2 separate regions of the Homo sapiens genome follow, and region 1 is linked to region 2. The links come from fine-mapping of genetic effects on gene expression. A gene starts in region 2. The other region holds a variant in brackets. All regions are shown on one strand. Distances are between the middles of the regions. Region 1 holds the start of SNORA92 (small nucleolar RNA, H/ACA box 92). Region 2 holds the start of TMEM184B (transmembrane protein 184B).

Region 1 (5,331 bases), 50 kb before region 2:
GCACTGGACAAAGGTGGACAGGGGAGGGATGCAGGCGGGAAGAGCCCAGGTCAGACAGGGTATTGCACGGTGTGTGGGGGAGCCACGGCTTGCCGACCTCAGCCTGAGAGTCTCGCGGGGAGGAGGGGCTAGAAGGCTGCAGCCGCTGGTCCACACACAAGCATTGGGGCCTGGGTGCGGCTGGTCCCAGCATGCCCCCAGCACAGGACGGGCAGCAGGGGCATAAGCCTTGCTCCCAGTGTCCTCTGCCCTCGCCCGGGCAGTGCAGGCTGGGCCATGTATAAATATTCCTGAAGGCCCATGGGCGAGCCTGGCTGTCCCCCGTTCCTCTGGAAGTGACATGTGAGTGTTTCTGGTCCAATAAATAAAGGCGGCGTGAGCACTGTGCCAGCTGCCTCCTGGCCTGGTGGTGAGGCTGGAGGTGGGGCACAGCCTGACCGTGGCTATGGCGCCAGCACTTCCGCCACTGCAGCCCGCACCTAGAATTCATCATCAGAGCTGAGCAGGAGAGTCTTCTCGTTGTCGCGGGCGCCACTGAGGCTGTGGGAGCGGGAGAGGCCGTGGGCGCCACCACGCCAGGTGGGCCCAGGCTCCAGGGTGGACTGCTGCGTGTACTGCTGGTAGGCAGGTGAGAAGTTGTGGATGGCGTCCTGCACGATGTCGTGCGGGTTCATGGTCTCCTTGAGGCTGCTGGAGATGCTCTTCATGGGGGCACAGCGGCCTGCCGGGCAGGGAGCGGGAGGGGCAGGTGAGGAGGCTGGGACGGTGAGAGGGAGGTGGCTCAGCCCCTGCCCGTGATCCTGGGACAGACACCCCCCAACCCAAAGCTATGCCCTTCAACCATCCCTTCTGGGACAGAGAATGGGGTCCAGGATATGAGAAGGGGCAGGAAAAAATGGACTTCTTTGGCTGGGGAGCCCCAAGGGGAGGCTGGACTGTGAAGAGGAGCAGACATAAACCCCCACTGGGAGCTGGGCTGGCTGCAGGGAAGGGACCCAGGGTGGAGACTGGCAAGCTATGGGCAGTGAGCCTAGAATGCCCCAGAGAGGCCAGAGCAGGCTCAGCACTGACTGAAGTTGGGGCATGTGGGGCCAGAGGGCCTGGAAGCCAGGGGTGCCCGGTTCCACAGGTGCCAGGCGCGTCCCCCACCACCGGGGGAAGTGCTGTGCTCCCTCTACTCTGGAGATCAGGACCAGGCTGGCCTGCACCCCCAGGGGAGCAGATGCGACTCACTGGCTCCCTCTAAGAGGGCTTCCTCCTCATCTCTCTAATCAACTGTCCCCATCCTCAGGGGCTCAGAGCAGAAAGGTGGCCCAGGACACCTGGATGTAAGGGACGAGCCCACCCCTGGAACCCAGGATTCCTGACTCAGCTTGTGAACTCTTGGAAACATCGTGAAATGCCCCGATATCCCATGAACAGCACTGTGCCCCCAGAAGAAGGCGGGGCATATTCCAGAACGAGAAACGAGGACGGAAGCAGGCAAGCTCTACAGAGGGTGGCCCTTGACAGGTGCTCTGGGCGCTCCCACCCAGGGGGTGCCGGTGGGGAGGAGATGAGGACACGGAGAAGAGCTACAGAGAGACGCATGCCAGTGACAGTGACCAGAACTGACATGCAGGACAGACATGCAGACCAAGAGCGGGACCTACCGTAAGGGCCGTATGTTGGCACTGCCCGCGGCCAAACCCCGGGCAAAAGCAGGGCAAGGGGGGCGGGGAGAGAAGCCAAAGAAATAGAGAAGACAAGAGACAGCTGAGTGAACAATGTGTGCCCACCACCGAGGCCCACCAGCACGACACACCACACACCCTGTCCCCACCCCCCCAGGCCCCACAGGGCACCCAGGAAGCTCCAGGTGCCTCCTGGGGCCTGGCAGGGGGGATATCCACCTAGGGATGACTCCTCCCCTGGTGTTCACGCCAACAGGAAACATCCGTCTGGCGACTGAGTTCCGCCTCCACGTCTAGGTCAGGACGTCCCATCCCCACTTCTTCCCCGGCTAGCCTGGGGCCACATCCACACCTCACATTTTACAAACCTCACAACACTTCCCAGACCAGGACATGGAGGCTCAGAGGGAGGGGTTACAATCGCACAGCTGAGCCAGCTCTGCACCTAAGCCTATCCTGAGGGCTGAGGGTCTGGGCCTGGGTTAGAGGGTAGCAGGGGGCTCAGGACCAGTGGGGAGGCAGAAGAGGGCAAGCAGCTTCCCCGGCCGGGCGTGGGTATGTCTAGAGGGACAGCTCAGGCCAGGCAGCAGAGCCCCTCTGCTGAGCCCCAGTGGTGCAGGAATGGTTCTCTGCCATGGGCCCCCTTGCTCCTTGGGGTGGCCCCAGGCCCCAGGCCCAAGGATGATGTTCCCACGGGCACAGGGTATACCACACCAGGTCCAAGGGACACTGCCCTCAATGCTGGGTGTGTGTTTGCTAGATCCTTCCAACTGGGCCACCAGGTGGCAACCCCTGGCCTTTGTGCACCTGCTCTTTGGGCACAGAGTAGGTCTTCCCCCACCAGGGAAGGCACAGAGGAAGGGGGGCGGGAAGTGGGCCGCGGAGCCCCGCTGCAGGCAGACATTTCTACAGTCCACACCACCCACCACGGAGCCTGTGTGGGGCCTGCAGGTAGGCCCTGGGGAAGTGGGTTTCTTGCCTCCAGCCACTCGGGCAGACAGCTGGCAGCAGCCAGGCTCCTGGGTGGATGTGTCAGAGAAGGAGGCTCCCCTCTCCCCAGTCCCTCCTGCCCCTTTACTGGCTCAATCAGTCTCAGGCATTCCCAGCCTCCTCTTCCCCATCCTCCAAGGACAACCCCCTTCTGCCCAGTGGCCAGAGGCAGCCCTTCCAGCCCAGTGGAGCGTCCCGGGCAGCAGCACTTTCACATCACCCTGGGAGTGCTTAAAGCACAGAACTCTCACAGCACACCCAGCCTGCCAGCCCGGACCCATTACAGCGGGATCTCCGAGGGTGGGGCTGGGTATCAGCACTTCCAAAAGCTCTCCAGGGCATTTTCCAGTACAACTGGGGCTACTTACCACTGTTCTAGCAAGGAGGAAGATTCGCA[G/A]GTGTAAAAGAAAGCTGTTAAAACCTATTACCATCCGAGTCTGTTTCTCAGAAGTATTCTTTTTTTTCTTTCTTTCTTTTTTTTGAGACGGAGTCTTGCTCTGTCACCCAGGCTGGAGTGCAATGGCACAATCTCGCTCACTGCAAGCTCCGCCTCCTGGATTCACACCATTCTCCTGCCTCAGCCTCCCGAGTAGCTCGGACTACAAGCACCCGCCACCACGCCCGGCTAATTTTTTGTATTTTTAGTAGAGACAGGGTTTCACCGTGTTAGCCAGGATGGTCTCGATCTCCTGACCTTGTGATCCACCCGCCTCGGCCTCCCAAAGTGCTGGGATTATAGGCGTGAGCCACCGTGCCCGGCCAGAAGTATCCTTTTTTTAAAAAATAGCATATGAGATGAGGGAATTACAGGACAAAATGGTAACCACAGTGTTGGGAGTTAGAAGCCCGAGGGAATTTGTCTATTCATTACAGTCTCTGTCTGTATCAGCCCTGGACCGCCACACTTGGACCTGCTGCAAGGGACAGGTGGCCTGAGCTTCCAGGACCGAATCGGTCGTGCTGGTGGCACCTGCTCTTCCCCGACCTCTGTGGCCCCATTCCTGCATATAGAGTGGGGATCCCATGTCCTGACCCAGCCGCACCTGTAGGATGCTGGGAGGTGGGAGGGTCCTGGGATGTTTGGGGCTCCCTGCTTCTCCCAGCGGGGGTCGCCTAGGACCCTGGCTCATACCTTGTGCGTCCAGCCTCTTGTCAGCATAGACCTTGTAGGTGAAGGCGTGCCGCAGGGCCAGGGCTGCAAAGAACATCTCCACACAGATGATGAAGTCCTGGTAGCCGGCAGCCACGGTGCCCTCGCCCACCGACACGCGGGCCGAGTGGATTTTGGGGATGGCCCCACACTTCTCCAGGATGGCCAGGAGCATGCCTGGATGGGGAGGCACGGGTGTCTGGACCCAGAATGATTCCTTTCCTGCTCCCCCTTCTTCCACAATGCCCCATTCAGCTGCCCACATGCCCCAGTGAGGATGTGAGCAGGGCCACAGCTGCTCCTGCAGGGCAGGGGTAGCGACACAAGGCCACAGCCTCCGGAAACCCCACTCTCCCAGCTCTTTGCCACCGAAACTGAGATGCCAGCAATTACGCAGGGTCTCCTGGGCCCTCTCATCCATGTAGCGGCCCCACCAAAGCTCTCCCTAGCCCCTGGGAAAGGCCCTCGAGGGCTCAGATTTCACCCCCAGCAAGTGCCCAGTGGGCTGAGGCCCCTCTGAACAGGCCCTACAGGCACCAGGGACCATAAGCAGAAGGGGCAGCAGGAAGCGCAGAGGACAGGGTGGCATGGGCAGCCTCCAGGTGCTGGGAGGGGGCTCACCTTGCCAGAAGGAAAGAAAGATGACGGACTTGACCATGAAGAACTTGAGGACGGGGCTGTAGGGGCTGAGCAGCTCCCGGGTGGCGAAGTAGAAGAGGAAGAGGGCGTAGAGGGCCAGGCTGACGGAGATGTTGTAGATGATGGTCACGTAGAGGTAGCCACTGGTGACGCTGCGGGACGGGGAGCATTTTCTGGCTGGGACAGACCCTTGGAGGGAAGGGGCTCTCCTCGACTGCACCACACACAGTCCCCATGGCTCTCAGCCCCACACCTCCAGCAGAGCTCAACGAGCCACTGAAGGGGTCAGAATGGGTGATCAAAGCGACAGACAGGGGTGGGGGTACATGGGGTGCGCCTGCAGGCCAGACCAGCTCTACTGCCTCTGCGTGGCTCGTGGACTTGTCTAAGCCCTGGTGCCCACACTCCTAACGTTGGACACCAGTGTGGAAGCCAGGGCCGGGCCCGAGGCCATAGCCTGACACTCAGATAACAGGCGTCAAAATAGGTGACGCTGCTCAGCTCTGCTGCCTTTTCACTCGGTCGGCTGCATCCCCCTGACCTCCTTTTGCCCACCTGCCCTGGCAGGGCTGTTACACAGTTCACAGACAGTGTGTGCCGAGAGCTTGAAAGCACAGGGCTAGACACATGGTCACTTTTTTTTTTTTTTTTTTTAGATATGGAGTTTTGTTCTTGTCACCCAGGCTAGAGTGCAATGGCGTGATCTTGGCTCACCGCAACCTCTGCCTCCTGGGTTCAAGCGATTCTCCTGCCTCAGCCTCCCGAGTAGCTGGGATTATAGGCACCCGTCACCACGCCCGGTTAATTTTTTGTATTTTTAGTAGTGATGGGGTTTCACCATGTTGGCCAGGCTGGTCTTGAACTCCTGACCTCAGGTGA
Region 2 (5,366 bases):
TAGGAAAGAACTAGGACAAGTGGCTCATTCACCCTTCTGCCTCGAAGCTCTTCTTTCTACTTGGTTGGAGAAATTCAGAAGGGGCTCTTTGAATAACCCACCACCACCGTGGGTGCAACAAATAAGACATCCAGAATCCCAACGACTGCACAAATGCTTTGGGGGAATTCACAGCGCCTTCTCCACCCACATTAGCTATTGGAGCCTCGTATCCAGATTGGGGTCACTAAATCAGTGTCCATCTTCCCAGCACTGGGAGCCCCTAGAAGGCAGGCACCAGGTCCCATTGATCATCAGACCGCTATGCCCCAGCATAGTGCCTGGCACATAGTAGATGCTCAGTAAGTTGCAAGACAAGATCTGGCAGCAAGAGAGAGGTCCTGGTTAAAGGATGATTCCATCCAGGCTTGCCACGTATCGTGGAGAAGAACGTCATGAATTCCCTCTGGGCCTCAGTTTACCGCATCTGCAAATAGGGACAACTGTTCCTTACTCACACAGCTGCTGTGCAAATTACACAGGAAAATATATGTGGAAAGCAGAAAAGCCTCAGATGAACGTCAGTCATCCTTCAGGCTTCAGCTCAACCGTCTCCTTATGAGGGAGTCTTTCCTGCGGCCACGATCCCCCTCCCCGGGAACTGAACCTGCCTCTGTACTCCTTCTACTCCTTTGTTTGGTATTTTTCACATCATCGTGATCACCTGTTTCCAAATCTGATTCCCCCATGCTTGAGAGCTCCTTGATGGCTTGGGCATCAAATGTTTCTGTCCAGGTGGGCACACATACCTGGCTGCTGGGGCTCTCCCACCCCAGCGTCCCAGGTCCCAACTCTGATACGCACAGCACCCTAGGCAAGGTTCAGAGGTGCAGAGCCTAGGGGTTCTACCAAGGAAGCTAAATAGGTAGATGGAAAGGGACACTGTAGGCATAACCTGTCAACGAAGTCACACCTCTGAGACCTGCGCTGCCTCTGCAGGTGCAGGTGAGCTTGTTTGCCTGGCTGACTCTGCAGCGCAGGGCCTCCAGGGCACAGATTGCTGCTTCTTTCCTTACAAAAGCACCAGCAGTCAGATAAATAATACATGGCCTTCACCTCACCACAGGTATCAGGCATGCAAATACCTGCTTTGCCCCAAAATGCCCTGGAAAGGAGGGAGGAGTAAAACGTCTGGCCTTATACAACACCTCCAGAGGGGATATGTATTGGGAATCCATGCCCAACCCCCAGCATAACTGCCTTGCCTTGGCCTGGAGCCACCCAGCACTGGAGGTAAGTGGATCCAAGCGAGGTACCAAGGGTGTGCCCAGGAGGAAATGTACAATTCACGGGAAGGATACAGACACCCAAAACCAGTCTCCACGGTCCCTTTGGGGGCAAACATCTTTCGAGCCCCAGGTCCCAGTCGATCCCCTTCCAAACCTGCGGACCTGTGTGGCGGGCGTGTACACCCTCCACTCACGACGCAGCCCCGAAAGCCCCCCGCCGACCACCCTCCCAGGTCACTGCCACCCGCACAGGGCACGGACGCCTCCCCCACTCACTCGGCCGTGCCAGTCGCCAGCACACCCACCCGGGAGCACACAATCCCTCTTGCAAAGCGCCTTGGTCCATCCGCCTCCCTCTCCCGGGGCCGCCCCCCGGACAGGTCCGATTACACTCCAGGAGCTGCCCCCGCCACGTTGGCGTGGAAAGGGAGCGGGCACACCCACGGGCGACCTCGCGGGGCGGAGAGGAGGCACGGGTGGGGAGACGGATGCCCCCTCCCTCCGCGGCCGCACCGGCCTCCGTAGTGCCCTCCCCGCCCGGGAGCCGGCGGCCGAAGCCGGGCGTCCCTCGCGCGGGCCTCTCCGAAACAAGCAGCCCCCCGCGCTCGGGAGTCGCAGCTCCCCCTTGGGGCTCCCGGGCGAGGCCGGCCAGGCGGGATACCTCAGGAGCCCATGGCGGTGGCGGCGTCTGCGGACGATGCGCGGCAGCCGGACTCTGCGGGCGGGGCGGGCGGCGCCGCAGCCCCGGAGTCTCCGCCGCCGCCGGCGCGTCCCGGGCCCAGTGGAGTGCAGCCGCGGCGCGCATGCGCTCTGGGCTCGCCGCCGGGGAGGGCGGGGCGGCGGACGCGGCTGAGATCACTGCCTGGGCCTTAAAGGGGCCGCGCCCCGAACCCCAGCCCGCCGCCCCGAACCCCAGCCCGCCGCCCCGCGGGTTGGGGCGCGACCCGGGTTCTCTTGCCACTCACAAAACCAGCTACGACCGGCCCCCAACCGCGAGAGCTTTCTGGGCTGCGATCTCTGCCCCTGACCCTCGCTGGTGCTTCACTTCTTTTAACCCTAATTTCCTCCATTTGAGCCTGTTTTGAAGATGAAACGAAATACAATGGCTATTTGTTGAGTGAAGGATGCGTGTGGAATTGTGGAATGAACGTGGACCGAGTGTTGTGTGCAATTAGGCCAGATGAAATGGCAAAGCACTGAAAGAGGCCTTTTTTTCCCACTCCGCTTAGCAGCGATTCTTTCTTGCCCCGTCTGGCTCTAGGCTGCCGAACTAGCAAAAGTCTTCAGATAGGGTTCAAGCCGCCTAGTCCATTTCTGTTTGCCGGTCCAGACATCACCTAGGTTAACTGAACAAGATAAAATGCAATTAAGTTCTGGCATTGATGTGCTCAAGATCCCCAAATGTATTTATGTCTCCAGACTCCTCGCCTGAACTGTCTACCCAACACCTCTTCCTTGGAGCTCCAGCAGGCATCTCAAAGTCAGCGTGTCTGAGCTGAGCCAACCCCACTTCCACACACAAAAACCTGCTCCCTCTCAGCTTTGCCTCCATCAGCTGTTGACAATTCCATCCTTCCAGTCCCCAGGCCAGAACTCGGAGTCAGCTGTGAATGAATGCCCCCCTTCTGCCCGCTACCCAATAAGGCAGGCAGGAGATCCTGTTGGCTCTACCTGCAAAATAGATCTAGACTCAGATGTCTGCCACTCCTCCTCCAGTGCTACCACCCTGGTCCAGTATTTGCACAGGATTATTGCAGAGTTCTGCTAACCCCTCTCCCTTGTTCCAGCCTTGCCCTCTGATCCATTCTATCAATTCAGGGGTGAGGGAGATCCTTTTTTTTTTTTCTCTTTTTTCTTTTTGAGACAAAGTCTCGCTCTTTGTCTCAAAGTTGCCCAGGCTGGAGTGCAGTGGCGCGATCTCGGCTCACTGCAAGCTCCGCCTCCCGGGTTCACGCCATTCTCCTGCCTCAGCCTCCCGAGTAGCTGGGACTACAGGCGCCCGCCACCATGCCCAGCTAATTTTTTGTATTTTTAGTAGAGACGGGGTTTCACCGCGTTAGCCAGGATGGTCTTGATCTCCTGACCTTGTGATCCGCCTGCCTCGGCCTCCCAAAGTGCTGGGATTACAGGCGTGAGCCACCACGCCCAGCCAAGATTCTTTTAAAATCTGCCGGGCACGGTGGCTCACGCCTGTAATCCCAGCACTTTGTGAGGTCGGGTGGCTCATTTAAGGCCAGGAGTTACAGACCAGCCTGGCCAATATGGTGAAACCTTGTCTCTGCTAAAAATACAAAAATTAGCTGGGTGTGGTGGTACATGCCTGTAGTCCCAGCTACTCTGGAGGCATGAGAATTGCTTGAACCCGGGAGGCGGAGGTTGGGTTGTGGTGAGCCAAGATCGTGCCAATGCACACCAACCTGGGTGACAAAATGAGAATCTGTCTCAAAAAATAAAATAAAATCGAAGTCAAAACATGGTACTTTTTTGCTCAAAACCCTCCATTGGCTCACTGTTTCGCTCTAAGTAAAAGCCTTACAAGTCCTTACAAACACTTGATCTGACATTCTACTCTCCTGGGGATTCCTGATCTCATTCATCTCTTACCCTTTCCCTCCACACTGATCCCTTGCTGTTCCTAGAACAAGCTGAGCACACTCAGCCCCGAGCCCCCTGCACTAGCTGTTCCCTCTGCTGCGATCGCTGTTTCCCCAGATACCTGAATGGCTCCTCCATCACCTTCTTCAAGGGTTTGCTCGAATGTCCTCCACTTAGTGAGGCCTGCTGTGAGCACCCCTAGTAAAACTACCAGACCCCTCACATGCACTCTGTATTTCCCTTTACCGTGCCCTACTTTCCCTGTCACTTCATTTCTTTCTTTCTTTCTTTTTTTTTTTGAAGCGGAGTCTCGCTCTGTCACCCAGGCTGGAGTGCAATGGTGCTATCTCGGCTCACTGCAAGCTCCGCCTCCCGGGTTCATGCCATTCTCCTGCCTCAGCCTCAGAGTAGCTGGGACTACAGGCGCCCACCACCATGCCTGGCTAATTTTTTGTATTTTTAGTAGAGACGGGGTTTCACCGCGTTAGCCAGGATGGTCTCGATCTCCTGACTTCGTGATCCGCCTGCCTCAGCCTCCCAAAGTGCTGGGATTACAGGCGTGAGCCACCCTGTCACTTCATTTCTATCATATTATATAGTTTGCCTGTTTCCCTGTGTGTCTTCTTCTAGTAGAACACAAAATTTTTCGGTTTTGTTTTTTTGTTTTTGAGACAGTCTCTGTCACCCAGGCTGGAGTGCAGTGGCACAATCTCAGGTCACTGCAACATCCGCCACTCAGGCTCAAGTGATCCTCCCACCTCAGCCTCCTGGTTAGCTGGGATTATAGGCATGTGCCACCATACCAGGCTAATTTTTGTATTTTTTTTTTTTTTTTTTTTTTTTTGTAGAGATGGGGTTTCGCTATGTTGCCAGGGCTGGCCTCAAACTCCTGGGCTCAAAGCAATTGCCCGTCTAGACCACTCAAAGTGCTGAGATTACGGGTGTGAGCCACTGTGTGCCTGGCCAATAAATTCTGAAGAGAAAGATTTTCATCCTTTTTGGCTTTTTTGTTGTTGTTGTTGTTTGAGATGGAGTCTCACTCTGTCACCCAAGCTGGAATGCAGTGGTGCAATTTTGGCTCACTGCAGCCTCAACCTCCCAGGTTCAAGCGATACTCTTGCCTGTGCCTCCCAAGTATCCTTTTTGTTTTCTGATGTAATCCCAGTACTTAGTACAGGGTCTGGCATAGAGAACATGCCCCCGCAAAAGTAGGTATAACATGACCAGAGATCTGGTAATAGCAAAATCCTATAGAACGATTCCTCCCCAGCCCCAGGTAGGACATGCCTGGGTCTGTCCTAACAAGAGTAAGGCTTATCAATTGCATTGTAACTTGTTTATGACTTCCCAGCTCTCCCTCCCTACACACTAACCCCTTCAGGAGGAAGTCTTTGTCCCAATTACCCACCATATCTGCAATGTGTAGTACAAGACACTTACAGACCAGACACAACCTGACTTACACTTCCCCTCCAGGGCTTTCAGTTCAGGGTCTTGGTTTCT

What was found.
Region 1: its variant is fine-mapped to the expression of TMEM184B in whole blood (TOPMed, PIP above 0.99). The same link has a PIP of 0.9 or more in gastroesophageal junction, subcutaneous fat, thyroid and tibial nerve.

The regions. Positions count from the first base shown.
Region 1 is chr22:38,220,990-38,226,320 of GRCh38, forward strand. It overlaps TMEM184B (transmembrane protein 184B), which reads right to left. Exons shown (of 9, transcript NM_012264.5): 7 at 4,435-4,604; 8 at 3,796-3,990; 9 at 1-721. The coding sequence ends at 480. It overlaps SNORA92 (small nucleolar RNA, H/ACA box 92), which reads right to left and starts at 3,731; the gene lies at 3,490-3,731. RefSeq lists enhancers at 1,754-2,254, 3,670-4,170. The variant G/A (reference allele first, on the strand shown) is at 3,061.
Region 2 is chr22:38,270,955-38,276,320 of GRCh38, forward strand. It overlaps TMEM184B (transmembrane protein 184B), which reads right to left and starts at 2,056. Exons shown (of 9, transcript NM_012264.5): 1 at 1,930-2,056. RefSeq lists an enhancer at 807-1,516 and a silencer at 1,579-2,208.